4 separate regions of the Homo sapiens genome follow, and all the other regions are reported to be linked to region 3. Evidence: microRNA targets listed by miRTarBase, many of them from high-throughput screens and not tested one by one. Region 3 holds a microRNA gene; each other region holds the end of a gene's coding sequence.

What was found. The annotated mature microRNA hsa-miR-569 reads AGUUAAUGAAUCCUGGAAAGU and lies in region 3 at 3,945-3,965, shown strand. An mRNA with a match to its seed (bases 2 to 7 or 8) in the 3' UTR can be bound and repressed. Matches are read on the target gene's strand: a 7mer-m8 pairs with bases 2 to 8, a 7mer-A1 pairs with bases 2 to 7 and ends in A, and an 8mer does both.
Region 1: the mRNA of NAXD is a reported target of hsa-miR-569. Seed matches in the 3' UTR shown: 7mer-A1 at 4,537-4,543.
Region 2: miRTarBase lists NCALD as a target of hsa-miR-569. Seed matches in the 3' UTR shown: 7mer-A1 at 3,901-3,907.
Region 4: miRTarBase lists GPATCH8 as a target of hsa-miR-569. Seed matches in the 3' UTR shown: 7mer-A1 at 5,377-5,383 and 7mer-A1 at 5,756-5,762.

Annotation. Positions count from the first base shown.
Region 1 is chr13:110,635,409-110,642,846 of GRCh38, forward strand. It overlaps NAXD (NAD(P)HX dehydratase), which reads left to right. Exons shown (of 10, transcript NM_001242882.2): 8 at 60-180; 9 at 1,721-1,841; 10 at 2,970-4,588. The coding sequence ends at 3,120. It overlaps CARS2 (cysteinyl-tRNA synthetase 2, mitochondrial), which reads right to left. Exons shown (of 15, transcript NM_024537.4): 14 at 6,907-7,113; 15 at 6,009-6,200. The coding sequence ends at 6,129. Among named protein-coding and RNA genes, the nearest start is that of NAXD-AS1, 23 kb to the left of the region's middle. RefSeq lists enhancers at 1-473, 1,304-2,132.
Region 2 is chr8:101,684,824-101,692,261 of GRCh38, forward strand. It overlaps NCALD (neurocalcin delta), which reads right to left. Exons shown (of 4, transcript NM_032041.3): 4 at 1,719-4,583. The coding sequence ends at 4,486. Among named protein-coding and RNA genes, the nearest start is that of NCALD, 100 kb to the right of the region's middle.
Region 3 is chr3:171,103,206-171,110,643 of GRCh38, reverse strand. It overlaps MIR569 (microRNA 569), which reads left to right and starts at 3,885; the gene lies at 3,885-3,980. TNIK (TRAF2 and NCK interacting kinase) reads left to right here. Exons shown (of 33, transcript NM_015028.4): 20 at 2,482-2,579; 21 at 3,438-3,461. LOC105374216 (a long non-coding RNA gene) reads right to left here. Exons shown (of 5, transcript XR_007096163.1): 2 at 3,269-3,450; 3 at 2,728-2,806.
Region 4 is chr17:44,394,012-44,401,274 of GRCh38, reverse strand. GPATCH8 (G-patch domain containing 8) reads left to right here. Exons shown (of 8, transcript NM_001002909.4): 8 at 1-5,994. The coding sequence ends at 3,707. Among named protein-coding and RNA genes, the nearest start is that of ITGA2B, 8.0 kb to the right of the region's middle. RefSeq lists a silencer at 620-1,083 and an enhancer at 3,295-3,795.

The sequences.
Region 1 (7,438 bases), not on the chromosome of region 3:
CTGTCGTCGTGTGTCTGAGGAAGACTTTGCTTTTTCTCTGTCTTCCTGTGTTGTCATAGCTCAGAGGCCCTATGGACAGCGATGACAGCCATGGATCTGTGCTAAGACTCAGCCAAGCCCTGGGCAACGTGACGGTGGTCCAGAAAGGAGAGCGCGACATCCTCTCCAACGGCCAGCAGGGTGAGTGGCGGCTGCCCTCTGTGCATGGGCCAGTGCCAGGTCAGTCAGCATGGCCACACCGAGCATGAGCCCTGGAAGACCTCTCCCGTGCACACCCGTGTTCACACACATTCACACAGGGATTCCTGATGAGCTCGTCAACCACACTTTCTTCAGAGTCCATGTTTTGACTTTTCACTGTTTTGCCAGGGGAGGTGACAGTGGTGAGGGCAGGCTTTCGAGCCGTGGGCCTTACCCGTTGGTTGAATTCCCTTGCCTCAGTTATGAGAAGCAGTCTGGCGGGAGGGTGCCTGCAACAGCAGGGCACAGTGCAGGGTCCCGCGTCTCCAGCTGCCACCTTCATCTCACCTGTGGCATCCACCATCCATGCAGTTATTTGGGTATTTTATTGCATTTCATTCTCTTTTATCAAAATGACTGGAAAGTGCAGAAAGCCCCGAAGCTGATGCTGGTAGTGGAATCTCAGGCACTGAGTGTGGCGAGTCTCAACTGGCCACTCCCACGGAGCCTGGGGAGGCTTCAGCAAGAGCCAAGTGAGAGCAGGGCAGAGGCCGGGCCCAGCGCCAGCGAGGCATCTGGGGAGCCGTGCCCTTGTTAGCGCTGAAAATGGAAGCCCCTCCATTCAGGCCTGGACAGATGATGGGCAGCGAATGTGCTCACCTGCTGAGCTGTGGGGCTGGACTAGGTACCAAAATCAGGGTAGAACACTGAGGCGTCTGTGGGCGGGTGTGTGCACATCCACACTTGTACACTCACATTCACATGCACATATGTGCACACGCATGCAATTCATACACATGCACAGTTGTGCTCACAGCCTCGCACGCCCTTGCACACTCGCACTTATACACATGCATGGTCATGCTCACAGCCTCGCACACGCCCTCGCACACTCATCCACACACAGCTGTGCACAAGGAACACAGAGCAGATGTTCTCAGAGGGACTCTGACACCTTTGAGATGAGGGTTTTTTAATCACTGGAAGGCTCTCTTGGGTCTAACAGGTTCAGAGAATGTAACACCTGGTTTTCAAAACATTTTTCAAAGAAATAGAGAATTCCCATACACAGGCATACGTGACGTTATGAGGCCGGTGGAGGCCTCGCTCGGTGTTGCCCTGTATGGTTGAGCTGTGGTTTAAGGTGAACTCTGGAGTGTGGGCTGCAGGTGAGGGCTCCGTCCCTGGGAGCTGGTGGGAGGAGCTGGAGGCTGGCGCCGCCCTGCTCAGAGCTGCCTGCTTGGGCTCGTCTGAGGCGGTTCCGAGCTGCAGGTGTCTCCACCAACCTGCTGTGCTACACAGCGGGGTCTGGGGCAGCCTCACCACTGCGTGTCTTGGTTTCCTCTTCTGTAAAACAGAGGCTGCCTCCAACCCTTGGAACAAACAGGGAAGAGCCGTAGCAGGCAGGATGTGAGTGGAGCCTCAGGCTGCTCCTGGAGGGTGTGGCTCTGCCTGCCGTGCGGCCTTCCACACCCGTGGCTACTGTCACATTCACACACATGGCCATGCTGACACCTGCTCTCACTTCTGCCCTGTGCAGTGCTTGTGTGCAGCCAGGAAGGCAGCAGCCGCAGGTGTGGAGGGCAAGGGGACCTCCTGTCGGGCTCCCTGGGCGTCCTGGTACACTGGGCGCTCCTTGCTGGACCACAGAAAACAAATGGGTAAGGCCACGTCTTCATTTATTCTACTTTGAAACCGTCTGATTTTTCTAAGCTGTTTCAGTAGCTCATGCGTTGAATAAGTAGCCCTGGAAACACTGACAATGAACTCTAGGCTTCACTGGAGAGATCTCGGCACAGACGAACCCTCTTGGCAGAAGCTTCCACCCCACACTTGGGCCTGGGCCTGTCCATCATTCACTGTGGATGGGGCCTGGGGCAGGGGTGGTCTTCAGAGCTCTCCAGAGAGTTCCGAGGTGCAACCAAGGCCCAGCAGCACGCTGTTCTGGGAAGTTGAGTGGTTTATTCTGTGTAACACAGAATACTAAGATAGAAAACAGACAGGGTCAAGGCTTACTTAGACACTTGTTCTTAAAGATGTGAATTTTCTTTAAGAGACAGCAGAATTCTAGGACCAGGGCCCTTGGCCCAGTTCTGTAGTCAGAGAACTTTATGAATGCAAGCAGTTCCCATACCTCTAAGCATCTCCATTTCTCTTCTGTGAGCCCATCAAGGTGGTGGCTGCAGGTGCTAGGTGTGGCAGACCCGGGCTTCTGGAGGGTGGGCAGGGCTGTCATCCAGTGGCCTCATGTGTCCTCATTGCCGGGATGGCAGAGTCTGGGACCATCCCCCAAACTAGGTGTGTCCACATGAATTTGAGAGCCGAGGAGGTAGGGGTGTGGGCAGGAGTCTTACTGTTCATTCTGCTGTGTTCACTCGAGTTGCCTCCACCCCTCCCCCAGGAGATGGAGCCCTGGTAGCAGGAATCCCCATTCTCAGACCTCAGATGCCCTCTGCACCTGGGCACTGAGAGCACAGTCAAACAGGGCTAAGCAGCTTGTGCCGCCTGGCTTTCCCCGGGAACACCTGGCCCACTGTGTGCCCTAGCCCTGGACCTGTCTCCGAGTACATAGACGTTTCCTGTGTGCCTCCTGCCAGGGAGTAGTGGAGGGTTAATGGTGGTTTTCGCTGTGATAAACCTGCTTTCTCCTCAGGGGCATATCAGACTTGAAATTGACAATTTGGGGTCCTGAGATTGAAACAGGAGTCAAAACCAGAGCCCAGGGTAGCTGCGGCCCCCGGACCACGACGCCCACTTCCCCACACCTCCTGCTGTCCCCCTCTCCGCAGGTCCAGCCCTCTCCTGGTGGCCGCGTTTGGCGCCTGCTCTCTCACCAGGCAGTGCAACCACCAAGCCTTCCAGAAGCACGGTCGCTCCACCACCACCTCCGACATGATCGCCGAGGTGGGGGCCGCCTTCAGCAAGCTCTTTGAAACCTGAGCCCGCGCAGACCAGAAGTAAACAGGCACCTTGGACGGGGGAGAGCGTGTGTGTGATGGGAAAATCCGGACCCACGCGTGTGCTGAAGGCGTACGGTGCTTGCCAGATTTTCAACTTGAGCATAAATTGGTTGCCATTGAGAATTTAAGAATCTGGAATATTGCAGCTTTTGGTTAAACTTAATGCATGGTTGGAGATGTTATGGCGACACTAAACAAAGTATTCCTGAACTTTCCTTAGCTCCTTGGTAGTAACTGGGAAGACAGAAATGAAGAAAATCACATGAGAATGAAGAATTCTTTAGCAGCTCAACAGAGTTTCTCGGCCTGCTCCCAGATCGGCGAAGTTTCTACTTGTTACTCTCTCTGCCGGCGCCCTTCGTTCCTCCTCTGCTTCCCTTCCCTAGTCTTTCCTCCGGCAGGGAGCTGGGCAGGGGTCCCCGGGTGTCTCCCTGAGTCCCGACTGCACTGACTGGGTCCATCAGAGGGCTGCTTCGTTCTCCAGCTCATCTTCTTTTAAAGTGGTGACTAGCTTGGTGGTATCTGGCTGCTGGTGTTTGGCTTATTGACATACTCCAGGGTAATCAATGATGACTTTGTTTGGAAACCCTTTTGGAGGCACCATGGGAACAGAAGGAAACATGAGTGACGCTGACCCTTGAGTGTGTGGGTGGGGAGCTCTGAGACGCCTCCTGTCCCACGCTCTCCGGTGTCCGTGTCTACACAGGGGTCCCCATGATACCCACCGGCCCCAGCAGGGCAGACCGGACCGGGGACGGGCACGGTGAAGGGCTGCAGCCTGGGGTCTGACGTGGCCCCTAGTGCTGTCTCAGGAGAAGGCTCTGGAGGACTTGAGGCATGCTGGGCCTGGTGCAGTGATGGCGCTAAGGAGACCCGGGGAAAGACAGTATCGTGGTCACGTATGCTTAGGAAGCAGCACAGCCGTGTCCTTAGGGATGTTCGCGTCCAGTAAAGACACTGGTAACTGCGGTTTCAGCCAACACTCTTCATGGCAGTGTCGACCTCGGGTTAGCTTCTGTTGTCTTTGTGGATGGTTTTCCTGGAGCGGCCTGACGTTGACGTGTTCTCTGGTCCCATGTCTTAGCGGGGCATGGTACGGTTTCGTGCCTGACGCGTGCATTAGGGTGTTCTCTTATACTTTCAGTAGCATCTTTCCACAGCAAGGGCCAAACCCTCCTGGTTCCCTTCAGAGTCTTTTTGGCCTGATGATGACTCTTGAGTGATACCCTGTGATGCAGACATGCCCCAGATGGATTCTACTTTCTTTAAAACTAGGGACTTTCAAGATTAAAAAAAAGATTGTCACTACTAATTTGACGCCTAACTTCAGAAGCTTCACTGTCTACATGTGAACTTTTCCAGAAAAACTGTGCCATGGACATTTTTCCTCTGGGGAATTAACATCTAAATTCTGGTAACTATTAAAAGACAGATCTGGTTAATTTAAATTGAGTATTGTATTTTTTTCCTTAAACAGCTAAAGCTCACCTTTCAACTTTCTTAGGTGAGGACATTGTGTGAGATGCCAGGGAGATAAGAATATCTAAGCCTGTCTGTGTGAGATTGGCCTCCTCGCCAGCGCCTCTCCCGTGGTGGCTGCAATAAAGCACCTTGAAGGATAAGCCCAAGGCAGCCCCTTCTTTCCTTAGGAAATAGAATTCAGCAGTCACAGGAACTATTCGTCTGGTTTTTGTTCTAAGTAAAACATCCCTTTGCTTAAAGGAGAGAATGGGTTTTTTTACAAGCAGCTCATTGCTTCCATGTTCTTTCTCAAACCCACGTATTTCACGCACTCGCTCCAGCCGGACACGCTCCCAGGAGCTTCCCTGGACCAGGAGAGCAACGGGAAAGTGTGGGGGGGTGGGCGGCCCGTAATGCCCCAGTACTGAGCAGCCCTGTCGAGATGCCTCATTGTAAGGAGCCCTCTGGGGACTTTTTCTATGTGGGTAGCTTTACTAGGGTGATTTTCTAGGTGAGTGACTTCTGAACTGTAGACAGGAGACCTGTACCTCAGGGTCACGGTTAAATGATGAGCAAGCCCGTATCCCCAGTCACGGGTCCCGCTGCTGCCTGTGCCCTTGGGATTCAGAGATGCCAGTGTGACAGGGAGAGGCCTGGCCCAGGGTCTGCGAGCAGGAAGAGTGGAGAGGGGTCACCCTGCTGAGTCACTGACAGCTGTGGCGCTGGGCTTACCACAGAAGGGTGAGATCAGGAGCAAGGTGGGTGCTTCAGGAGGCCACCGGTCCTGTAGCCCAGGCAGCCTGCCGTGTGCTGGCCGCCACCTCCCGCTCAGGAATCCTGTCTGTCACAGCTCGCCAGCTGGCTTTCAGCCTGGCTGCCCTGACTCCTCCGGAACCAACCTTTCCCAGGCCCAGCTCGACCCCATCACTGCTCTGCACAGACCATGACCACCAAGATGGCCTGCAGCTGCCAGGATGTTAACTGCAGCGGGACTGCAGACGGGTTCTCAGCTGCATTTTTCCTATGCTGAATACGTTACTTTTGTAACCAGAGAGAAAACGTAAGATTGTGTTCTTGCTGGGGGAGGTGTCCCGGGGTTAGCATTGCTGGCGTCCCACCTCTGCTTCAGACTATGCTGCGTGGCCCACCCACCTCACCCATCCCCAGCCCCTCCCTCAGGAGGAAACAGGCTGCATTCTGCCGCCTCCCGGGGTCCCTGCTCTTCTGTTGGCTGTGTTGTCTGTTCCCTGGGCACAGGGCCAGCAGGTCTCACGCACAGGCACGTGTGCTGCTGGATGCTACTGAATGTCTGACACTACTTCACTCAATCGACGGTGAGTCTGTAGCCACAGAACGCAGTGAGTGTTTAGGCTCAGTTACTAACAAACAGACGCCAGTGGGACACTGTTGGTTGCCTTACTTTAATGCTGACCTAGCAGCCCCGACAGGAAGCTTTAACATAAAGCCTTGACCCTGAGAAGCATGGGTGCGTCTTGTCGTGAGCAGGTTCATGGCTGTGCTCCATCCTCAGCCCGCTGATTTTTGGTCTTTTGTCCTTTGATCCAGCAGTTCCCACGTGGATGTTGTACTGCTTCTGTCCTGGAGAAGAAGAGTGAGGTCCAACTCTGAGCAGACACCACGTCATGTGGCACAGGGGGCTGACAGGCGTAATCAGGTTCAGGGTGCCTGTTCCCTCACCGGCCTGTCCTAAAAAGCTTGCCAGGCGCTTAGAAAGGGCCCCACTACCTCCAGCAGAAGGCCAGGAGCTTCAAGGCACCTGCAGGAGGTGGCGGGGGCTGAGCAGGACCCACGTCCCCGTGCTCAGCGTCCCCTGCAGCCAACTTGGCCCCTCCCTCACGGCCCTCCCACCTCATTTTTTATGGGGGTGGGTTTCTCTACTCAGAAGCATGGGCAGGGCGCAGTGGCTCACGCCTGTAATCCTGGCACTTTGGGAGGCTGAGGTGGGAGGATCACCTGAGGTCGGGAGTTTGAGACCAGCCTGACCCACGTGGAGAAAACCTGTCTCTACTAAAAATAAAAAATCAGCCGAGCATGGGAGTGCATGCCTGTAATCCTAGCTACTCAGGAGGCTGAGGCAGGAGAATCGCTTGAACCTGGGAGGCAGAGGCAGAGGTTGTGGTGAGCCGAGATCACGCCATTGCACTCCAGCCTGGGTGACAAGAGTGAAACTCCGTCTCAAAAAAAAAGCATGGTCACGGGGGATGTCTGGGCCTCTGATGGCCCCACGTCCTGTTGACCTACCCGGCTCCTGGGGTGATGTCCCTGACCTTGGTGCGGCACTCACCTTGATGTTGATGCCGTGGGCAGTCAGGCCCCGGCGCAGGGTGTCGCATGCTTCCAGCAGGGGCTGCCTTTCTAGGAGCTGCTGCCGCCGGGCGTCCCCCGTGGCCTCGGGCATGGCCAGCGCAAACTGCCGGACCTTCTGCCGGAACCGCACCAGCTCGTCCACCACACCATGCAAGGTAGCCTCGCTGCCGTCTCCTGAAACGTACTGAAGCCAGCAGGGCGCGGTTACGTCCCCCGGAGACTGTGGATTGTGGATGCCCCCTCCCCACCCCGTGGTTGGGCTCTGGGCCGACACCCACCCAGCCCTGGGCTTCCCTGATTCCCTGCAGCTGGGCCTCTTTCTGGGTCTGGCAGGGATGGGTACAGCCCGCGAGCGCTGGGCTCTGGGCAAGGCTCCACTCAACTCTGAGCATCTGTCGTCCAAGCAAGGCTGAGTGATCCTCACTCGGGAGTTGGAAGAAAGGGCTGGGGGCTGCATGCCGCCCCGCCCTGAACACAAACGCTCCCTGGCTTCCAGACCTCACGCAATT
Region 2 (7,438 bases), not on the chromosome of region 3:
TGGCCATCAGAGAAATGCAAATCAAAACCACAATGAGATACCATCTCACACCAGTTAGAATGGCAATCATTAAGAAGTCAGGAAACAACAGGTGCTGGAGAGGATGTGGAGAAATAGGAACACTTTTACACTGTTGGTGGGACTGTAAACTAGTTCAACCATTGTGGAAGTCAGTGTGGCGATTCCTCAGGGATCTAGAACTAGAAATACCATTTGACCCAGCCATCCCATTACTGGGTATATACCCAATGGACTATAAATCATGCTGCTATAAGGACACATGCACACGTATGTTTATTGTGGCATTATTCACAATAGCAAAGACTTGGAACCAACCCAAATGTCCAACAATGATAGACTGGATTAAGAAAATGTGGCACATATACACCATTGAATACTATGCAGCCATAAAAAATGATGAGTTCATGTCCTTTGTAGGGACATGGATGAAACTGGAAACCATCATTCTCAGCAAACTATCGCAAGAACAAAAAACCAAACACTGCATATTCTCACTCATAGGTGGGAATTGAACAATGAGACCACATGGACACAGGAAGGGGAATATCACACTCTGGGGACTGTGGTGGGGTGGGGGGAGGGGGAAGGGATAGCATTGGGAGATATACCTAATGCTAGATGACGAGTTAGTGGGTGCAGCGCACCAGCATGGCACATGTATACATATGTAACTAACCTGCACAATGTACACATGTACCCTAAAACTTAAAGTATAATAATAAATAAATAAAAAAAAAAGAGAGAACCACCAAAGCAAAAAAAAAAAAAAAAAAAAAGGGAAGGAGGTCCATTCTTTCAAAGGCAGTTCTTATGCTCTCCTTTCTACCTTGACTGAGAGAACACTTGGACTCTTCCTCAGCTGGTGGGTACCGAACTAGGATGTGTGGGGACTCAGTTGGGTTGGGGCAGCAGAACAATGTCCTGAAAATAGGAGCCTCAGGTTTGGAAATTTGCTGAAAATTCCCAGGTTGCTGGTAGGCAGGCTCCTGATGAGATTGGAGACGCCCAGCCACCTTCTCAGGATCAGACTTGTGTTATTCATGCTCAGGACTCATGGTGTCAGGGCCATCACTGGTCCATAGTGGCCAACTGTGTGCAGTAGGAAGACTCCCTCGAGGGCAACTCTGCCCCCACACATGGTCTAGTTGGCCCGTGAAGTTCTCCCACAGCTAACACTCAAGTTAGCAAGATGGCAGCTCCTTTTCTCTACAGTAACGGCCTCCTGTGCTGGAGGCAAGGCCAATGACAGCAACAGCCAACACCATGATTGGAACTGGCTTTCAGAGTGTAGGCTCTGCCTCATGTCATCTTTTTCACTGAACCTTCTCAGGCTGAGAGGGGTGAAGAGGTTATTTATTTCCTGAAGCTTACCCAGATCCCATTGAAGGGGAGGTTGCCTCAGTTTCTCCCTTTATTGTACCTAACATTTGGACTCTAGTTTGAGGAAGGAGAGGATATGGGAAGGAAGTGTAGACCATGGAGGGAGGGATGTAAGGAAGCCCATATGAAGACCAAGGATGCCTTTGGACAGAACTTTGGGGTCAGCAGCCTCTCTCATCCCCCCTCACAAACCTTGGTTCCTTGTGTCACTCTAGGCAGGAAAAATACCCAGGAGGAGGCTAGTATCAGAAGCTAGAGCCTCAGTAAGGCACAGATTCAGCTGGGGCAGCAGTTTAGGCATGAAAATCTCATGAAAATCATGTTAAACCAAAAACATGCTTTAATGCCAGGCAAGAGCTACACAGTCAACTGATTTACGGGCCACTCCATAGGCTATGATTTATAAATTATATATTATTAAATCCACCGTGGGCATACAGATGGGATGGGACAGCACCCCCAGCTCCCTCCCACTCTGAATGATGTATGAACAGTTGAGCACTCTGTAGAATCCTTCAGGTCGTAAGCCACTTTATTCCAGTCCCTTGAACATCACAGGCTGGTTTTATTTGGGACAGAACAGGTTTTATTTCCAAAGGTCCCTGAACACAGCAATGACAATGAACAGCCCAGCAGAGGAGTGACATAAACCTTGAGGCATGCAGTCTTCTGGGTGCTGTGGAGTCCCTTGGCCAAACTTGAGTGCACTGGATTCGACATACAAAGACCTTCCTGGGAAGGAGAAGGAGAAAAACAACCTCCGAGAAAATACAGACAGGGTCAGTGGCAGGCCAGGACAGGGACTATTTCTATACATTCTGGAAGTGTCGGCATTCATCAGCCTGCATGTGGCTCACTTTTCTTTCTGGAATAGCCGGAGACCTCTACTCCTCACTCCAGCTCTAGGTTCCAAGGAACAGAGTGGGTCTGGCTCAGCGAGATGTCATGACTAAGGGCAGAGCCCAGGCAGGTTTCTCAAAACATTAACTGATTCCACCTACCAAAGGAGAATCAAAGGAAGGAACTAGGACTTCGATTCAGAGCAGGGAAAAGTGGGATGCAGCTCCTGAGCACTGCCAATAGGGCATGCTAGGTCTCCTCACCCAGTCTGCCTTCTGTGTCTTAGGTTAATTCGCTATTTTCCAAACACAGATTTTAACACTTGGCCATGGAGGAATTTGGCAAGTTTTGGTACAGAACCACTGTGAGGAACTGACCCCTGGAGGAAGACTAGGATTATTTTTACAGAGTCTAGGTCTCAAAATTTCACCCTATGGATTTGGTTCTTTTTGGTCTACCATACAAATTTGGATTTCTGCTGCCAATTACAGCAGACTCAAGTCATATATAAAAACCTGGAGGTTAGCATGTCTAGTCACATTTTTCTCCTGGTCATGATGTCTCTCTTTCTGTGGTTCCTCTTCTTTGGCAAGTGGCTTGGCAGCAAATATACCCACTAGGGACCTCTCTGCCTTCTCTTAGTGGCAAGTTCCCCATCAACAACCTTGAGAATTTGGGCCTCCCTTTGCTAACTACTTGCAAGAGTATGACTCGCCTGTAACCAGCAAATTTTTACTCTTAGCTTTCAATTCAAATTAGTGTGTCTGAGGTCACCAGACCAAACAGCAACTCAGACTTGTGCTGTCACTTCTGGAAATAGAAGTCTGCATTCAAAGAGCACGGCAATGGAAAATACTTTTGGATTCTCCATAGGGGGGCCTTGGAAACCACAGACACACTTGCCCATGTCTTTATGATGAATTTGATGACTGCCCAACCTCTGATTCTTTAACAGGGGCAGGGAAACTGAATATTCCAGACCTGGCTCCCTAACCATGCACATAGATTAAACCACTGGGAAGTTCCAAGAATGTATGTGATGTTTTTTCGAGTCTGCAGAGTATTGATCTGCTCAGAAAAGCACCATGCCGCCAGTCTAATGCTGTCAATGGGCTGCTGGGCCTGAGAGGGAAACCACCCTACTGGTCCCCTGTCATACATGTTAACATTCCTGTGCTCCAATTGTCCTGTCCCACTACCACCTGCTCTGCATCTGCCCTCTAGGCATGGCCACTCTGGAAATGCATTCAAAATTAAAGTTGGGCCCTAGTCAGGGTTACTTTGTATTTTTATGGAATATATAAAATATACTTGTCGATTGGTACATTTGTGCAAAGACAGATATGACTTCCAAACAAGACAGACATTCATTATAGTTGTCTTACTTCACAATAAGCTACTAAAAACAGTCTTCTGGAATAAGATTGTATTAGTGCTCACTAAACATGCATTTCATTTAAACAAGGCAAAACACTTAATTTGGTCTGCATTACCCAATATGTTATATACAGCCGTCTTTTTATTTTATCACAATAGGCAACAAGATGGGTCTGGTTTTGGAATATGTTACCATTTGTGTTTAATTTCCAAAGACACGCATATTAGCTCAACTAGTGTAAACCTGTGAAAAAATAGCTGAGCCATCTTTTTCCTCTCCTCTGTTAATTTATCTTGAAATGTTCACAGCTTAGAAACTACAGCCTGCTGGGGAAGAGAGGGGAGTGGGCCCCCATGGGGAAATGTCCCAGCTCGCTGGAATAGCCTCACCCCAGAGGGTAACTTGTTCTTGGGGAATCCAGCATCCGGTGCCATCCATCACCCCTACGGCACGTGTGACAACAGATTCAGGTGGGGAGTTTTGTCTTTCAAACAAAAGCCCCTTGAAGCTTGCAATAGAATCACAGGACTGGATGGGTTTCCCTTCTTTTGCCCCAACCCCCGAGTCTTACGTTTTAGAACAGAGACATTAGAATAAAAAAAAATAATAGTAACGATTAAAAATCATCAAACAATGAACACCACGAAGTCTGTCCATGCTCTCCACAAGCACACTGGGGCTCTGGGCATTCCCACGAAGCATCCACGACAAAAGAAGCTGAAGGCGTCACGGAGGAAGGCGCATCAGACCGCACAGGGGACGGCATCACCATTGATATTGTTTGGCAAAAAAAAAAAAAAATTGTTAAAAAGAAGAATCAAAAGGGAACACAAGCAGCTCTACAATTCGATTGGTGGGCGCAGGGCTCAGAACTGGCCGGCACTGCTCGGGTCGCACTGCAGGAGGCGCACAATGGACGGGTCGCTTTTGGCTCCTCGGATGAACTCTTCCAGGGAGAGTTTTCCTAGGAAGCAAGAGGACAGGTGAGTGGTGGCTGGTGGCAGCTGCATGAGCTTACACCCTTCCCACTACTGCGTGCTGGGCAGTGTCGATTCACCTGCCTGCAGCCTCACTGCCACTGTGACACACAGCACTCACCTGTCCCGGGGAAGAGCCCAGTGGAATCTCCAGGAACACTGCTGCCTCATTCACCATGGCATTGCCAGCACTTAGGACAGTACATGTGGCAATCAAACGCCGCTGCCTGAGAGCCCACTGTGTGCCCGGCCCTGGGCCCGGGACTGGGGAGAGGGTGGTGGATGATGCTGACTTGGTCCCTGACCTCCTGGCTCCAGGCGCCCTGGAGAGGCTCACTCAGCATTTGTAAAGCAAGTGGCCCTCCTGCATTTATGAGAATGAGCTGGGCCCTGGCAGCACCCGGTTGGTTCCCATAATGTTCCCTGGAGCCTTCTGAGCCACTTCGTGTTCTTCAGGCCACTCTGTGTTCTTAGGTTTGCTGCAAGAGCCCATCCTATCTTGGGGAAGAAGCCGTGGACGTAAGTGTTTGTTCATACACCACGGGAAGACAGCTGTGCCTCCATCTGAGGTCAGGGAAGAGCAGGGTATGTTCAAGGCAGAGGGTAACCCATGGGTTTCTGCCTCTCAGTTAGGGTGCTCTCCTGCTACCCTGATGTGCTGGAGGAGGGAGGCTCAGCAGCCTGGGCTCCCACTCCGACCCCGGTGACCTTTCCTTTCTGCTTACTCTGGAGCACGTACAGAATTCTCTTCCAGGAAGGCCTGTCACTTGTGGAGAGGAGGGGAGGGGGTGGGGTAGGAGTTGGGGGACTGCAAGGCTTTTCCCATTCCTGGTGCTTCCAGAAGGACCCTTCCTCTTTGTCTACCCCGCCCCTGGGAGTGAAGTGACATGCTCGATTGGTAAATTTGGGAGGAATTGCTGGGCATCTCCGCCCAGCTTTGCCCTCCCTTTTTCTCTTGAAAGGAGCTGCCCCAGAGAGGATTTATTTCCATCTGCTCCTCCAAGGGCAGCACCCGGCCTGCCTGGCTCTGCACGCCTGTGGGTTTTTCAGCACGTCCTTGGACTCTCACGCTAAGCCATAGCCTCCAGTATCTATCTTTTGACCTCTGTCCTCTTTTATTTCTCAACTTACTCCAAACCTGACAGGAGGGGGCCTCCCCCAACAGAAACACCAACAAACATATCTTCTCCTCAGCCACAACTCCCTCCCCGCCAGAACCTAGTTCTTGTTTAATGAAACCCACTTTATCTCCATGAAGGAAAAAGATAGGGATGCATTTATTAATTTATTTTTAATTTGTAGAGCTGATCCCCTCCAAGCTCTGTGTGCTGGCCATTTTTTATGAGCCCAGCCCTGCCCACATAGTAGTTACAATGGTAATGACTTCCTCCAGCTTGGCAAGGCATGAGGGAAGGGAGACAGGCGTGATCTCTGAACACTTTGCAGTCTCTCAGGGGTCGGCTCTGGGAGGCACCAGCTGGAGGTAGCAGGGGCAGACCTGGAGCTCGGCATGACGTCTGGCTTTCTTCACTTAACTGTCTGCATGATTCAGAGTTGGCTCCTAGGAGAACTTGCCTGAGGGCCCAGATTTTTCTTTTCAAATCGGAGGCCAGAAGTTAGATTCCAAGAGCAACAGGCAAGCTAAATCTAAGGGTAGGAGACTCTAGGTGAGGACTGCTCTGCTCTCGGCAGGGAGGGGTGCAGGTGTCCTCAATCCTGGGGTCCAGCAGCCAAGCACTGAGCTGAAGCACCCAGTCTCCTGGTTGAGCTAAGATTCCTCTGACAGCTGTGAACTTACAGCCCCTCTTCCTCCTTCCTTCTACAGCTCCCACCCCCCTCTCCCAACCCTAACCTTTGAAAATTTAATTTAATTTTAAACATGAGGTTTTCCTTTGGAAAGGCACAGGTCTTTAGCAGTAAGTTGTGCTCTGAGAATGCTAACTCAGTCAGGGCTCTGCAATCCCATAGCAGCAGAGTCCCAGTGGAAAGACCCTAATTCATTGCCTGTGATCAACACACAGTTAGGGCTTTAGGGCTTTATCCTGTGACATCTGATCTTCTCCCATCCTTCAGCCCTATCCTGAAGAGCTGTCTGGACCTAGAGCACAGCACAAACCCATTGTGCTCCCTTGAGTACCAGTAAAACCTGCAGTTTAACATCAGCAAGTTAATTAACTATTAAAATAATCCCGTGCTTGTTTAGTCACAACTATTCATTGTGAATCAAAGCAAATAAGGGGACATAGGATGTTTCCAAATGGAATGGCACCTTTGTGGAGGAAACAAGCAAGCAGACAGGCCCATACCACACAAACCCAGATTCTTAGGCAGCTGTACCTGGGCGGGGGATAAAAGGAGACAGAGGCTCTCTGTACTGCGAAGCCGCCTTCTGCTGTTCTATAGATCAGCGCCAGGTGGGGGACCCAAGTGCCTGTGCACATGGTTGACAAGAATTGCCGAGGCCTCTGAACAGATCGGGTGAGCTGATAATAACAGCAAGAGCTACAGAGCCGGGCCCTGAGCTGAGCTCTTTAAACTCAAGTATAACATTTAAATAGGGTTGCCAGATCTGGCAAATTAAATACATGATGCCCCGTTAACTTTGAATTTCAGATAAACAGCAAGTGACTTTTTTAGTTGGCTAAACAATTGTTAGGCTAATCCTAACAACTGTTGCTGTTTATCTGAAATTCCAGGATAATTGGGCCTCCTGTATTCTATCTGGCAATTTAAGATCTAAAATCCTTCTGTTCTTAAGTTGGAAATGCAACCTTCTTTTTCACTTCGTTGGGTTTGAATTGTGGGTAGCACCATCAGGGTGGGAACCTGCTGGGCACCTTAC
Region 3 (7,438 bases):
GTTACTTCCTGACTCTAGTCCAGGCATGGCCACCACTGTGTGATCCTGAAGAGCCTGTCAACTGCTCTCAACCCCAGTCTCCTCGGGAGTGGGCCACTGTCCCTAATTGTGTGTGTGCCATCAGTATGGACAAAATCCTTTCTAATCTCAGATACCAGTGTTTTCCAGGGAGATCACCAAATATCAGTCTTATTTGAAAATACAGTCACTTACCAGTCACCTGAATTTCTGTTTCTGTTTGATTGCCGGTTTTTAGAGTTTCATGTACCCACAAATGTCCTGAACGCATTGCACCAATTGTCCTGTTTAGTATTCTGAACATAGTTCATATACACAGTTCAGAATACCATGTATTTCTCAAAATGAAATTCAGTAAAGACTAATGTAGAATACACTTGAAGGAAGGAATAAAATCTTTGACTTAAAAAGCATATTTAGGCCGAGTGTGGTGGCTCACGCCTGTAATCCCAGCACTTAGGGAGGCCAAGGCAGGCAGATCACCTAAGGTCGGGAGTTCCAAGATCAGCCTGACTAACATGGAGAAACCCCATCGCTACTAAAAATACAAAAAATTAGCCTGGCGTGGTGGTGCATGCCTGTAATCCCAGCTACTCGGGAGGCTGAGGCAGGAGAATCGCTTGAACCCAGGAGGCAGAGGTTGTGGTGAGCCAAGATCACGCCATTGTACTCCAGCCTTGGCAACAAGAATGAAACTCCATCAAAAAAAAAAAAAATTGTTGACTCCTCTGGTTATTCCTATTAAGTAAAAATTAGCCTCTCTAAATATTTAATTCAAATTATTCATCATTGTTTAGTTTCCAGTAATGGGGAGGCCTATGAAAAACATTATTATTTCCAGGTGCTGATACATAATAATACATTGTTTCTAGCTAGTTAAAATTCACTCCTTCTGAATCAACTTCTTCAGAAGATAATTTTGCTTCTAAGTGATGAAGACCAGTACTTTAATTGCAATTTGACAAATATTAACATACTTATAAGTTTCTCTGTCTGATGAAAGCCTCATGAGAACCTTCAGTTCTTTTTTCTTTCTTAGACTCTTTATTACATACCACCTCCTAATACCCTTAGTTTATCTCCTAACACCCTTTCAGGGTTTTAAATAAATCACTCTATTTCCATTTTAAAAAGCTTGATATCTAACATGTGATTGATGTTCACGTCTCTGGATTGGGATATGGACTAGCCAACAGCTGCCTCTATATGCATTCTTCTGATTAGTGGCACATCTCAGAAGTATCTACTGTATGTCTTTGTTGCCTTGATCGAAATATAAATTTCCTTAATTTAGAAAACTACCAGATGTAGTGGCTTACGCCTGTAGTCCTAGGTACCCGGAAGGCCGAGGTAGAAGAATTGCTTAAGCTCAGGAGTTCAAGGCTGCAGTGAGCTATGATGGCCCCACTGCGCTCCAGCCTAGGTGACAGAGCCCCATCTCTAAAACACCTAAAGAAAGAAAACAGCCATTCTGTTATCTTTTTTCTATTTATAGGCAACTTCATATTCTTAGAGCAAATATTTAAATAAACCAAACTTAAACGCATACCATTTTAATTCTCTGGTCTGGTTCAGGCTTACTTTTTATTTCCTTCAGCCCCTCGTTCTTCCGGATTAAAAGGGCTGTTGTATCCCTGGTATGTCCCTGTCCAAGAAAGACTACTTTTTAAGAAATAAAAACCACCTCTCCTACCCTAAATTGCATCTTCTCTATCTGTAAGCTCATAGACTGCAAAGATGCTATTCACTCTGCAGCTGTCAGGGTCCCCTTGACCTTGCTCTGTACCTCCAGCCTAGGGCCCTTCTCCTATAACAACCCCCTTCTTGCCCTCACCTCATTCTTTTATTTTTAAAGGGCTGAGACCACTCCCATCTCCAATTAAAAACCGTTCCACCAAATAAAATAAATTTTTTTTCCCTCACAAAATTTCAACAAAATAACCTATCCTGATTGGACAAATGATAAAAGAAGAAAACAAGCATAGAACCTTAGAGGCTCATTTAGCATAGTGACTGAGAATAGGACTTTCAGAAATCAGAACTCCAGCTCTGTCTATAATTTCAGTGTGACCTCCGGACAGTTGTGTCATCTTTGTAAATCTGTGTTCTGTAAAATAGGAGAATAGTGCCATATCATTGGGTTGGAGTGAGGATTAAATGAGATAATTGACATGGAAAGCATTTAGCACTATGCCTGACACATAAGAAGTGCTCTAGTGGTGATAGTACTTGCTACATTTCTTTTTTTTTTAATTGTTACTAGTGATTTCCAGGTCACAAGCCTAAATGTGTTTGCCTGAACATTATATTTTTCATGGATGTTTCTTGAGGATTTGCCCAGGTGAATGACGTGTCCACTGAGTAATCTCAATGTGATGACACATCACAGATAATTCATTCAGAACTTGAGCCAGCACTTTTTGATGGCCATCTCTTTCTTGGTCCTCTGTTTTTTTCCTCTAGCCAACAGTAAGTCAGAAGGATCACCTGTGCTCCCCCATGAGCCTGCGAAGGTGAAACCAGAAGAATCCAGGGACATTACCCGGCCCAGTCGACCAGCTGTGAGTGCTTTTCTCTCCAAGAGTTTTGAACTCTTAATTTACCAGAGAACCCACAGGATTAAGTAGTTGGGGATACACTCATGATGCAAACAAAAATTGTTGAGATTAGTAAGAACGGATGCTAGAAACATCCCGAAGAAAGTCATACCTGATTAGGAAAGAACCGAAGAGATCTTGGATTGACTCCTCTGCCTTTGGCTATTTGCTGATCATTAGCAGTCCTTTAACTATAAAACAGGAAGAGAAACAACTCCTATCATTCCATAATTTCTACTCAGCAACTTTGGCAAAAAGATGTTGAAAGTAGCAGTTAAAGAGACTTGGGTACTTTCTATGAACTTCTCTAATCTCTTCTACTCTTTCCCCATATTATTTTCCACATGAATTAATATTACAGTTTTTCTGCTATTTTTCATGCCTCCAGGACTATATTTTCTGGACCAAACTTTTTAAGCAGGGTCCAACAGGCGTCGTAACAACTTAGCATCCAGCTTCACTGCTGTAACATGATAGACCCCCAGGTAGCCTTAAAGAGGAGTATGGAGGCTAAAATTTGAAAGTTGAAAATTAATTTGGGATGAATTACTATCCATTTTTTCTATTTAAATCTCTTGAGAATCTTTTCTGTAAAATGAACGTGAAGCTTTTTGGTTTACTCTTTTTTAACATCTTAAAGTAACGACGTATACCGAGAGTAATAATGAAGGGATTTGCATCATTCTGGATTGACATTCTCTTCGCCCTTTTGTATTTATCAGTTGCGTACTAACAATTACAATTTTGTGTCTAATCTGCTGCCTTTCTGCTGGCTTTTCCTCCTTCTGTGGATTCTTCTGGATTGGGTTCCTCTCATTTCAGAGCTACAAAAAAGCTATAGATGAGGTTAGTATTACCTTTTCTTGGTCATGCTTTCACAAAATGTAAATATTAAACTTATTTCCTAATGTTGACATTCAGAAAGGTGGCCAATGGGAGCAATCAGCTGGGAGGAGATTTGTAGCAATCTGCTGGGAGGAGTGCCCCTTCAAATGGAAGCCAACTTTAAGACCCTCAAACCTACCCATATAGCTTCAGAGACCTTCCTTCTAAGCTAAAATGTCACTTTTCCAATGTTCCAGTCTGGCTAATGACAAGTATTCATGCTTTATTAATGGCAGTTTCTCCTTCCAGTATCTTCCAATAGCAAACCTGTACTTGCCAGCCTTGCTAGGGAATGGCTCTCAGCAGTTTTACTAACAAGAAAAGAGACATCATTCTAGGACACTCCAAATTTAGAGTGTGTGATTTGTGAACAAGGAGTTAGTAGGTATTGTTAGATTAATTTTGTGGGACATTAACAACAGCATCAGAAGCAACATCAGCTTTAGTTAATGAATCCTGGAAAGTTAAGTGACTTTATTTCCTTGTCTGTGGAGACGTTTTCCATTAGAAAAATATATGGCTTTGTCAGTTGTAGGTAGCTTGCTAAGAAGGATGACTGCCTTACTGCTATTTGTCAGACCTGCATGAATACAGCAGAGTAGAATTTGTTTTTTTAAGATCCAGGCCTTGCAAAGAGTCCTAAATGCATGGAATCTAAAGACTACCATCATGGCTTTAAAGCTGTAGCTCTGCTGAGCACTACTTTTGTGAAATTTAATGGAAAAAGCACTGGCTTTGAGGTCAGCAAGCTGCATTCAAATCTTGGCTCCCCCAGTAAATAACTGGCTGAGACTAGTCTCATAACCTCACTGGGCCAGAGTTTCCTCATCCATAAAATGAGAATAAAAACACCTCCCCATCCCACTTACAAGATTGTTTAGGATCATTTAAGGTAATGTGTGTGAAAGCATTTTATGTGTAACATTGCTGCAGAAAGCCAAGGGTTTGATTAAGGTTTGGGCCAGAGGCATGGAGCTATTTTGGCAGGTAGGAGAAGCATGTTTCCATGTATCTGGTCTTCACCGAAGAGCCTCACTTTTTCAGACTTATGGCCACCTCACCACCCAGAGTGACGAGACAGTTATGATCATAGTTGAAGGATTGTTGCTTATAAAAGAATGAGACTCCGCATGTTTGCGGTGTGTGGATGGCATTTATAGAAAGGGAAGAGGAGAGTGTGTTTTTAATTGCTCTGTGCCGTGGCCTTGCTTGCCCCTCTCTCTCATAATAGTGAGAAGGGCAGGGATTATCACAACTTTTGTCAGTTTTCTCCCAGAACAGGTAAAGAAAGACAGTGAAGTTCTGGTGCTACAGTTGCCAATAAAATGGCTGTGCATGTGCAGAACTCAAGAGGAATTACATGAGTTCAGAAATTGGCTTGGAGGGGCCGTCATTAAGGAAAAGGCTCTCACAGATTTCATCTGATTAACCCAGAATATTTTAGGCTTTGAAAAATTGCTCTACTTTTTTTTGGTGTACTGCACCACACTGGACAGAGATGAGAGGGGGCAATGGAGGTATACGTAATTACAAATAATTGAGGGGGTGTGAGCTGCATACTAAAATCTCTGGAGCCATGTATGGTTGGAAAAGCCCTCCAGGTGACTATCCTGATCTCTTGAGTATCACTGATCCAAACCACTAAAATAAAGCGGTTCTACCTAACCCAGTGGCTCTCAACCACGGCTGATTCCTCCACTCCTCTTCCCTTAGGAGACATTTGGCAAAATCTGGAGACAGTTTTGGTTGTCACCACTTCAGAGTAGCAGGCAGTGGTACTGGCATCTTGTGGATAGAGCAGAGGGGTGCTGCTGCCAAACATCCCGTGGTGCACAGAGAACTCCCTACAATAAAGAATTATCTGGCCCAAAATGTCAACAGGGCCATAATTGAGAAACTTTGAACTACACCTTTCTCCCTTCTCCATTCATAGGTTTTGGTAGGGCTTCCCTCTCAACGACTGTTTTTGCAATTTAGATAACTGGGATTGAAATGAAAAATCTGAAAATCACTTTTGAAATATTGTCGCTTGTTATTGCTAATGATTTAACTTTTTATAAAAATTAATTTGGGGGAGTGTACATTAATGTGACATTGCTTTCTAATGGAATATGAGATTTTGCAGCATAGTCTATTTAATATAGTCTTTGAATATAGTCTTTGAAAATAAATGGGTTTTCTCTGTTGGCACAATTAAATATGTGACACAAAGATTATACACGTAAGAAAACACTGTTTTTACCGCTGTTTTTTATTAGTATGTGGGCATCAAAAATTTCAAAGCACATCAATTTAGATTGGATGGAAGGTGAACAATAACTAGGGGTTCAACCCCCTTTTCCCTCAGATGAGGATATTGAAACTAAGTGGCTTGCCCAATGTCATATCTTTAGAGTTCCTAAAAAGAAAATAGTTTAATACAAAGAGAAAAAAAAGCTAAAAATTTTTAAACAATAGTTCAAAAATTGAACTAATATTTATTTGAATAAACTATATTGTTTCTAAAAAGGGACCTAAAAGAGCGCCTTTTTAGTCAAGATGTGCATAATAGTTAACCTTTGTTGAATGAAAAATTATATCTAGTTGATTCTAAAAACTGTTAAGCCTCGTAGCTATCTTCACATTTACTCTGTAGTCAAAAAATCTTACCATCTTGCCATATTTCTTTTTTAGCTATATATTCTCAAATATTTTCATGCTAAATAGCACTTATTTTGTTTTTTAAATACTTTTTAGCTCCAGGCTTGTGACAGCCAAGTAATAAATTACCAAGAAGGCTCATTATATGGAGAAAATTTGTATTGTCAAAGAATAAAATATATGAAAATAGAATTGAACCCAATGGTGTTAATATTAGATTGTGTTTATTTCCTATAACTTTGCTATTATAAATTTTTCAATACTGGACGGATAAGAAACAAAACTTCAGCTAAACACATAGGTTCTTAGCAATGGAAGATTAATTTTCTTTGACTACAGGTATTACTTTGGAATTATTCATTATTTTTACCTTTTCATAGGGATTCTGGTATATGTCTCGCCTCCAAACTGTTAATTGAAAATTTCCTTTAAGTTTAATTGTTATTTCTAATGTTTCAGGGCAGAGAGCTTTTTAGTAACACAGAAGCAAAAAATTCTAATTAAAAGCAAAATTATTAAGCAGTTCAGAACTTTAAAGTGTTTCTAAATACAATGTTTAGAAAAATGTATGTCATTTTAACAAGTGAAAGTTTTTTTAAATCAGTAGCCTGTGGACTAAATATTTCTAAAATAATTTTGATTTTTTAGAATTTCTTTTGTCTCGTTTTGAAATGTCAGAGAAAAGGAAAATAAACCTCTGGGGAAAATGTATCATTAATTAAACCATAGCCAAGAGTATTATATTTTACTCAGAATTATTAACAATAGAGATAAACTCTTTTAAACCATATTCTCTCTTTAAATTATATAAAATGTAATTCTTAATAACAAGTAACATTTTAAATGCTAGCTGTATTCTTTGATGAGACTTAACACAGTCCTAATATATAGATGTCAGAATACAAAATAAATTTATCTAATTTTTCATTATTTCACTGGTTTGGAGGATGATAATATCCTTTTCTTTCATAGCCTTAACAAATATCTAGACTTTATTTTCCCATGGTACTCAAGAATAGCATACCCTTCACTTTCTTCTTCATTTGATAAAGATAAGCATTGACAATTGCCAGGAGGAAATAAGAAGTAAAAGTTGAAATTCAGATATTAGCTTTTCCTATTTTGGCTAATTGCCAAAGAAACCAGAAATTTGCATAACATTATACCTATGTTATGGTTTTCCTCTTCTTTTTATAATATGCATTACATTTAAACAGAGTTGGCCTTCTAAATACAATTCTATTTTCACTTTCACAGATGGAGCAAATACATTCACCGAGATTGAGGCATGTGCAAAT
Region 4 (7,263 bases), not on the chromosome of region 3:
ATACCACTGGACTGGCCCAGGCTCCTGGGTTAGCCTCCCAAGGCATCAGCTTTGGCATTAAGAATAATCTGGGGACCCCATTGCAAAAATTGGGAGTGTCATTTTCTTTTGCCAAAAAGGCTCCTGTCAAACTCGAATCAATAGCATCAGTTTTCAAGGACCATGCGGAGGAAGGGACCTCTGAAGATGGAACAAAACCCGATGAGAAGAGTTCTGACCAAGGACTGCAGAAGGTAGGAGACTCTGATGGGAGCAGTAATCTTGATGGTAAAAAAGAGGATGAAGACCCTCAGGATGGAGGGTCCCTTGCCTCAACATTATCCAAATTAAAAAGGATGAAACGAGAAGAAGGAGCTGGGGCTACAGAGCCTGAGTATTACCACTACATCCCCCCAGCACACTGCAAAGTAAAACCTAATTTTCCCTTTCTACTTTTTATGAGAGCCAGTGAACAAATGGATGGTGATAATACTACACACCCAAAGAATGCCCCAGAGAGTAAAAAAGGCAGTTCTCCCAAGCCTAAAAGCTGCATCAAGGCGGCAGCAAGCCAAGGAGCAGAAAAGACAGTTAGTGAAGTCTCTGAGCAGCCGAAGGAAACCAGCATGACCGAGCCCTCAGAACCAGGAAGCAAAGCTGAGGCAAAGAAGGCCTTAGGAGGGGATGTAAGTGATCAGAGTTTAGAAAGTCATAGTCAGAAGGTTTCAGAGACCCAAATGTGTGAGTCCAACTCTTCTAAAGAAACCTCTCTGGCCACCCCAGCAGGGAAAGAAAGCCAAGAAGGACCCAAACATCCTACTGGTCCCTTCTTCCCAGTTTTGAGCAAAGATGAAAGCACTGCCCTCCAGTGGCCATCAGAACTATTAATTTTCACCAAGGCAGAACCCTCCATTTCATACAGTTGTAACCCTTTATATTTTGACTTTAAACTTTCAAGGAACAAAGATGCCAGAACTAAAGGAACAGAAAAACCAAAGGATATAGGAAGCTCCTCAAAGGACCATCTCCAAGGCCTAGATCCTGGTGAGCCAAATAAAAGCAAGGAAGTGGGCGGAGAGAAAATAGTACGTTCCTCAGGAGGCAGAATGGACGCACCTGCTTCAGGGTCTGCCTGTAGCGGCCTGAACAAGCAGGAGCCTGGGGGTAGCCATGGGTCTGAGACAGAAGACACAGGGAGAAGCCTTCCCAGCAAGAAAGAACGATCTGGGAAGTCCCACCGGCACAAAAAGAAAAAGAAGCACAAAAAATCCAGCAAACACAAACGTAAACACAAGGCTGACACAGAAGAGAAAAGCTCTAAGGCAGAGTCAGGGGAGAAATCTAAGAAGCGCAAGAAACGAAAACGAAAGAAGAATAAGTCATCAGCCCCAGCAGATTCTGAACGAGGACCCAAACCAGAACCCCCTGGGAGTGGCAGTCCCGCACCACCAAGAAGAAGGCGGAGAGCTCAAGATGACTCCCAGCGGAGATCCCTCCCAGCTGAAGAGGGGAGCAGTGGCAAAAAGGATGAAGGTGGGGGTGGTAGCAGCTCCCAAGACCATGGTGGGAGGAAACACAAAGGTGAACTTCCACCTTCATCCTGCCAGCGAAGAGCAGGCACCAAACGGAGCAGCCGGTCTAGCCATCGGAGCCAACCCAGTAGTGGAGATGAGGATAGTGATGATGCTTCCTCACACCGGCTGCACCAGAAGTCTCCATCCCAGTACAGTGAGGAAGAAGAAGAGGAAGATTCAGGCAGTGAGCATTCCCGCAGCCGCTCAAGGTCTGGCCGGCGCCATTCCTCGCATCGTTCCTCCCGGCGTTCTTACTCAAGTAGCTCAGATGCCTCTTCAGACCAGAGCTGCTATAGTAGACAGCGCAGTTACTCTGATGACAGCTACAGTGACTACAGTGACAGATCACGAAGGCACTCCAAGCGCTCCCATGACTCAGATGACTCAGACTATGCCAGCTCCAAACACCGATCAAAACGGCACAAATATTCATCTTCTGATGATGACTATAGCCTCAGTTGCAGCCAGTCCCGAAGCCGATCTCGGAGTCATACCAGAGAGCGCTCAAGATCCCGGGGCCGCAGCCGCAGCAGCAGTTGTAGTCGTAGTCGAAGCAAGCGGAGAAGCCGTAGCACCACAGCCCACAGCTGGCAACGGAGCCGGAGCTATAGCCGGGACCGCAGCCGCAGCACCAGGAGCCCTTCCCAGAGATCAGGCTCCAGGAAGAGATCATGGGGTCACGAGAGCCCTGAGGAGAGGCATTCTGGGCGTCGGGACTTCATTCGTTCTAAGATCTACCGCTCCCAGTCCCCCCACTATTTCCGATCAGGCCGGGGAGAAGGTCCTGGGAAGAAAGATGATGGCAGAGGAGATGACAGTAAAGCAACAGGTCCACCTTCCCAGAACAGCAACATTGGCACAGGAAGAGGGTCAGAAGGTGACTGCAGTCCTGAAGACAAGAACTCTGTCACTGCCAAACTGCTACTGGAGAAGATCCAGTCAAGGAAAGTGGAGAGGAAACCTAGTGTGAGTGAGGAGGTGCAGGCCACCCCTAATAAAGCTGGGCCCAAGCTCAAGGACCCCCCACAAGGTTACTTTGGGCCCAAGCTCCCCCCATCTCTTGGCAATAAGCCTGTCCTTCCACTGATAGGGAAGCTCCCAGCTACCCGAAAGCCCAATAAGAAGTGTGAAGAGTCTGGCTTGGAAAGGGGGGAAGAGCAAGAACAGTCAGAGACAGAAGAGGGGCCCCCAGGGAGTAGTGATGCCCTATTTGGGCATCAGTTCCCTTCAGAGGAAACAACTGGCCCCTTATTAGACCCACCCCCAGAAGAGTCAAAGTCTGGAGAAGCTACTGCTGATCACCCTGTGGCTCCACTAGGCACCCCAGCACATTCTGACTGCTACCCTGGGGACCCAACCATCTCCCATAACTACCTCCCCGACCCCAGTGATGGGGACACCCTGGAGTCCCTGGATAGCAGCAGTCAGCCAGGCCCTGTGGAGTCCAGCTTGCTGCCTATAGCACCAGACCTTGAGCATTTCCCCAGTTATGCACCTCCCAGTGGGGATCCTAGTATTGAGTCAACAGATGGGGCTGAGGATGCTTCACTGGCCCCCCTGGAAAGCCAGCCCATCACCTTCACCCCTGAGGAGATGGAGAAGTACAGCAAGCTCCAGCAGGCTGCTCAGCAACACATCCAGCAGCAGCTTCTGGCCAAGCAAGTAAAGGCCTTTCCAGCCTCAGCTGCCCTGGCCCCAGCCACACCAGCCCTGCAACCCATCCACATTCAGCAGCCAGCTACAGCCTCTGCCACCTCCATCACAACTGTTCAGCATGCCATCCTACAACATCATGCTGCCGCAGCTGCTGCCGCCATCGGCATTCACCCTCACCCCCATCCCCAACCACTTGCCCAGGTGCATCATATTCCCCAGCCCCATCTGACCCCCATTTCTTTGTCCCACCTCACTCACTCAATCATCCCTGGCCACCCTGCCACCTTTCTCGCTAGCCATCCCATCCACATCATTCCCGCCTCAGCCATCCATCCTGGGCCCTTCACCTTTCACCCTGTCCCACATGCTGCCCTCTACCCCACCCTACTTGCTCCACGGCCTGCTGCAGCAGCTGCCACTGCACTTCACCTTCACCCACTACTTCACCCCATCTTCTCAGGTCAGGACCTGCAACATCCCCCCAGCCATGGCACGTGAGTTGGGGGATGGGATCCTAGGTAGGGCCAGGGGAGGAGACCCATAAATGTTCCCTTGGGGGTGTTGAGCCATTAATACCAGCAAGTAGAAGCTGGGATGGGCAGTGTCTGACAGCCAAAGAATTGAGTTTTGGCTTGCAGGGGTGGGTTTAGATTTGAAGTTTGCTTTCAGTTTACTATCAGGGATTTCTTTTTCCTGTCCTCCTCTCAATTTGTCCCTCCCTCTTCTGTGTTTCTAAGCTAGGGAACACCAGTAAGTGCTACCCACCCCTCTGCAGCAACATCTCCAAACTGTCAAGTTTAGATAATCCCCTCCTCCCTCTGCTTTTTTCCTCTGCTCTTCCCTTCTGTAAATTTTAAAACATTTTCCTCCCCTCTGGCCAGTGGGTTGTCACCAGAGCACTTGCTGTGGGCCCATCTGGTCTTGCCTTCTCAGCGCCACAGGGAAGGCCAAGCTGTTCTAGTGGTGGAAGTGCCACCATTTTGGGGTAGTATCTTTGACCATCTTTGGTGACGTTACGTTATCCCAGGTGAGGTGGAAAGCGTCTCACCTGGAACCTGATATAACTCAGGCTGCAATTCCATCCAGTTCCCACATCAACGGAGCCACACATTTGGCACTGTTATCTTGGTATCCCTCATCCCAGAAGAGGCATCTCCATATCCCAGAAAAGAAGATCCTATCATGAATAAAAGCTGTATGGCCCAGAGAGGAGCTCATGTGTCTAAAGTGAAGGGTATATTTTCTTCTGTTGTGTTGATGTTTCCTTCTTAATTTATAGGATTTTTTTAATGTAAAAAATTGCACTGAACTCTATAAACGTAAATGCTGCTTTTTGTAGCTCATATAAAAAAGGTTCCATATTTGTAGTATACTGCAATAATATTTTTTACATCCAGCTCTTTAAGTGATCCTCGTTCTGGTGGCTTTGTGTAAATATGTTTGCCCTAGTTGAATTAAGAAACTCTAAAGGTTATAAAATGAAAACAAAAAATAAAATATTTGTTTTCTGCTAGATGCAAAACTGACTAAGCATGTATATTTTACCAAACTTATGTATTTTTTGAAGTTATGAACTATAAAATGTTAAAACATTTTTTGCTGGGACAAAATGTTAAGTAATTTGCAGTATGTAGTGCCCCCAGTATTGGGATTTTTGAGCTAATGGGCAGCAGTCAGCTGGGGGCTTCTGAGGGATGCTCATCTTTAACAGTCTCCCTCATGTACTTTTGCTGTTTTACACAGAGAAACAGGTAGACCCCACAGAGGAGAAGGAGGGGATTCAACAGCTTTATTGTCTGGAAGCAGTGAGATTTGGTGATTGTCTGGGGGGATTCCTGGGTTTCCCTGGGTACCTTGTTCCAGGCAGTCAGTCCATTTGCCTTCCTAGTACTTAGCCCCCTCTGACAATTTTTTTTTTAATGTGCCTTTTGGGTTGGTAGAAACGGAAGTAGAAGTAGGCTGGAGGATGAGTTGGGACAGTCTTCCTTTTGTTGGGAGGTGAGCACATTTACAGATATTTTGCTTCATAGTTTCCATGCCCTCTGCCCAGCTCAGTTTAGACAGTAAACGTTCCTTGTTTCTTTTCTCCCATGACACTGACAAGAGGAATTACCACCTCAGCCTCTTTTGCCCCTCTTCTTGCCTTTCACCCAGGCTCTCAGCCCTAATTAACACACTGACCCAAAGGTGCTTGTGTTGCAGGTCCCATCTCCTTTGATGAGGTTAACAATTCCCACTTTGGCATTTTCCTAACTATTCGTGTGGCTAGAATTGGTTGGTTGGTCACTTGACAAGAAAAACCATACTTACCTGGGCCAAGGCTCTGTTCCTGCCTTCGCAAATTCTCAAAAGAGTAAAGTTTATGAAAAGAAAGTGGCAGGCAAACACAACTCTTGACTGCCCTCCCACCCTCCTACCTGTTCAGTACTCATCTGATTCAGAAGCATCACTTCTTGGATAACTAGCACTGGAAAAATGAAATCATCTGTGTAAGTGAAGGGACTCATTTTTCTTTGCTTTCAGCCCATGTAAATAAATAATACAGTATTAACATTTTCGTGCTGCTTCCCATTAGCTTGTAGATTGAGCCATACTCTGGCTGCCTCTTTGCCTTCCTAGGGGCATTTTCTTTAACTTCCAGAATAGTGATTTTAAAAGTAAAAATAAAAATAAACCTTACTTACAAGCATAACAGATTGTATTTAACTTTATCACATATGATAGAGATATATATGCTGTAAAATGAGGGAAAGGAACTTTCTAATAAACCAATGATTTGTGGAAACTTAGCAGAGTCTGTCGTAATTGTTGCCCCATCCACTCAAAGTTAGGTAGGGTTGGAGGTGTGGGTTATAAATAACATCTTGTTTGACATGACCAAGGAATAGATTCCTGTGAACCAGTTAGAGATGTTTGCAGTTGTGCTTCTGAAAGCTCAGGCTACGCAAAGAGAGAGGAAAGATGATGGTGTGGGAGGTGGTAATAGTAGTTAATTTCTCTCAGTTGTAGGTAGATGTATTGGGATGTACACCTCCTTTCCACTTCCTCTTTCCCACAAGAGGAAAGATTTCCTTCCATTTTAGATATATAATCTGTGTGTAGTAGAATATATGGTGTATATATAGGTGCTTACTAAATGGGTGTGGAATTTCTGGCTTTGAATTTTAGGATTTTGGACTACTTTAAGGGCACTGAGATGACAAGAATCATCTGCCGGACTTTTGTCCTCCAGGTGGAGTTCTGTATGCCAGTCTTCAGTTACTCTCCTCAGCCCTTTAATACCACTACAGTGTTTGAGCACCTCTACTTGGTATAAGGAAATATGGCCTAATTGTTACAGAGAAGATATAACCCCTACTCTTCCATATCAAAAAATCACAAAAGAGGCAGGGAAAATTTAGCATGGAAAGCTACCATAGAGTTGTAGTGATAAATTAGCTTTCCCTCTCAACCTCAGCCTTTCAAGAAGGAAAGGCTTTCTTTCCTACTGTCTTTTGATACATTTCTTTCCTACTCTGTTTGATACATCTGTGTTCTCCCTTTGATTAAAGAGGAGCTGTTCAACTTGAACCTGGGGTTGAGTACTCAGATCTGCCTATATTCCTAAAATAGCAAAGATCCTTACCCAGAAAGAAATGACATTAGACCTACAAAAATTAGCCGGGCGTAGTGGCACACGCCTGTAATCCCAGTTACTCGAGAGGCTGAGGCAGGAGAATCGCTTGAACCGGGAGGTTGCCGTGAGCCAAGATCACACCACTGCACTCTAGCCTGGGCAACAGCGTGAGACCCTGTCTGTCTCACACACACACACACACACACACGTTAGAAAATGAAAAGTGAGGCCAGGTGTGGTGGCTCATGTCTAATCCCAGCACTTTGGAAGGCCAAGGCAGGTGGATCACTTGAGGTCAGGAGTTTGAGATCAGCCTGGCCAACATGGTGAAACCCCATCTCTACTAAAAATTTAAAAAAAAAAAAAAAATTGGCCAGGCATGGTGGTGCATGCCTGTAATTGCAGCTACTCAAGAGGCTGAGGTAGGAGAATCGCTTG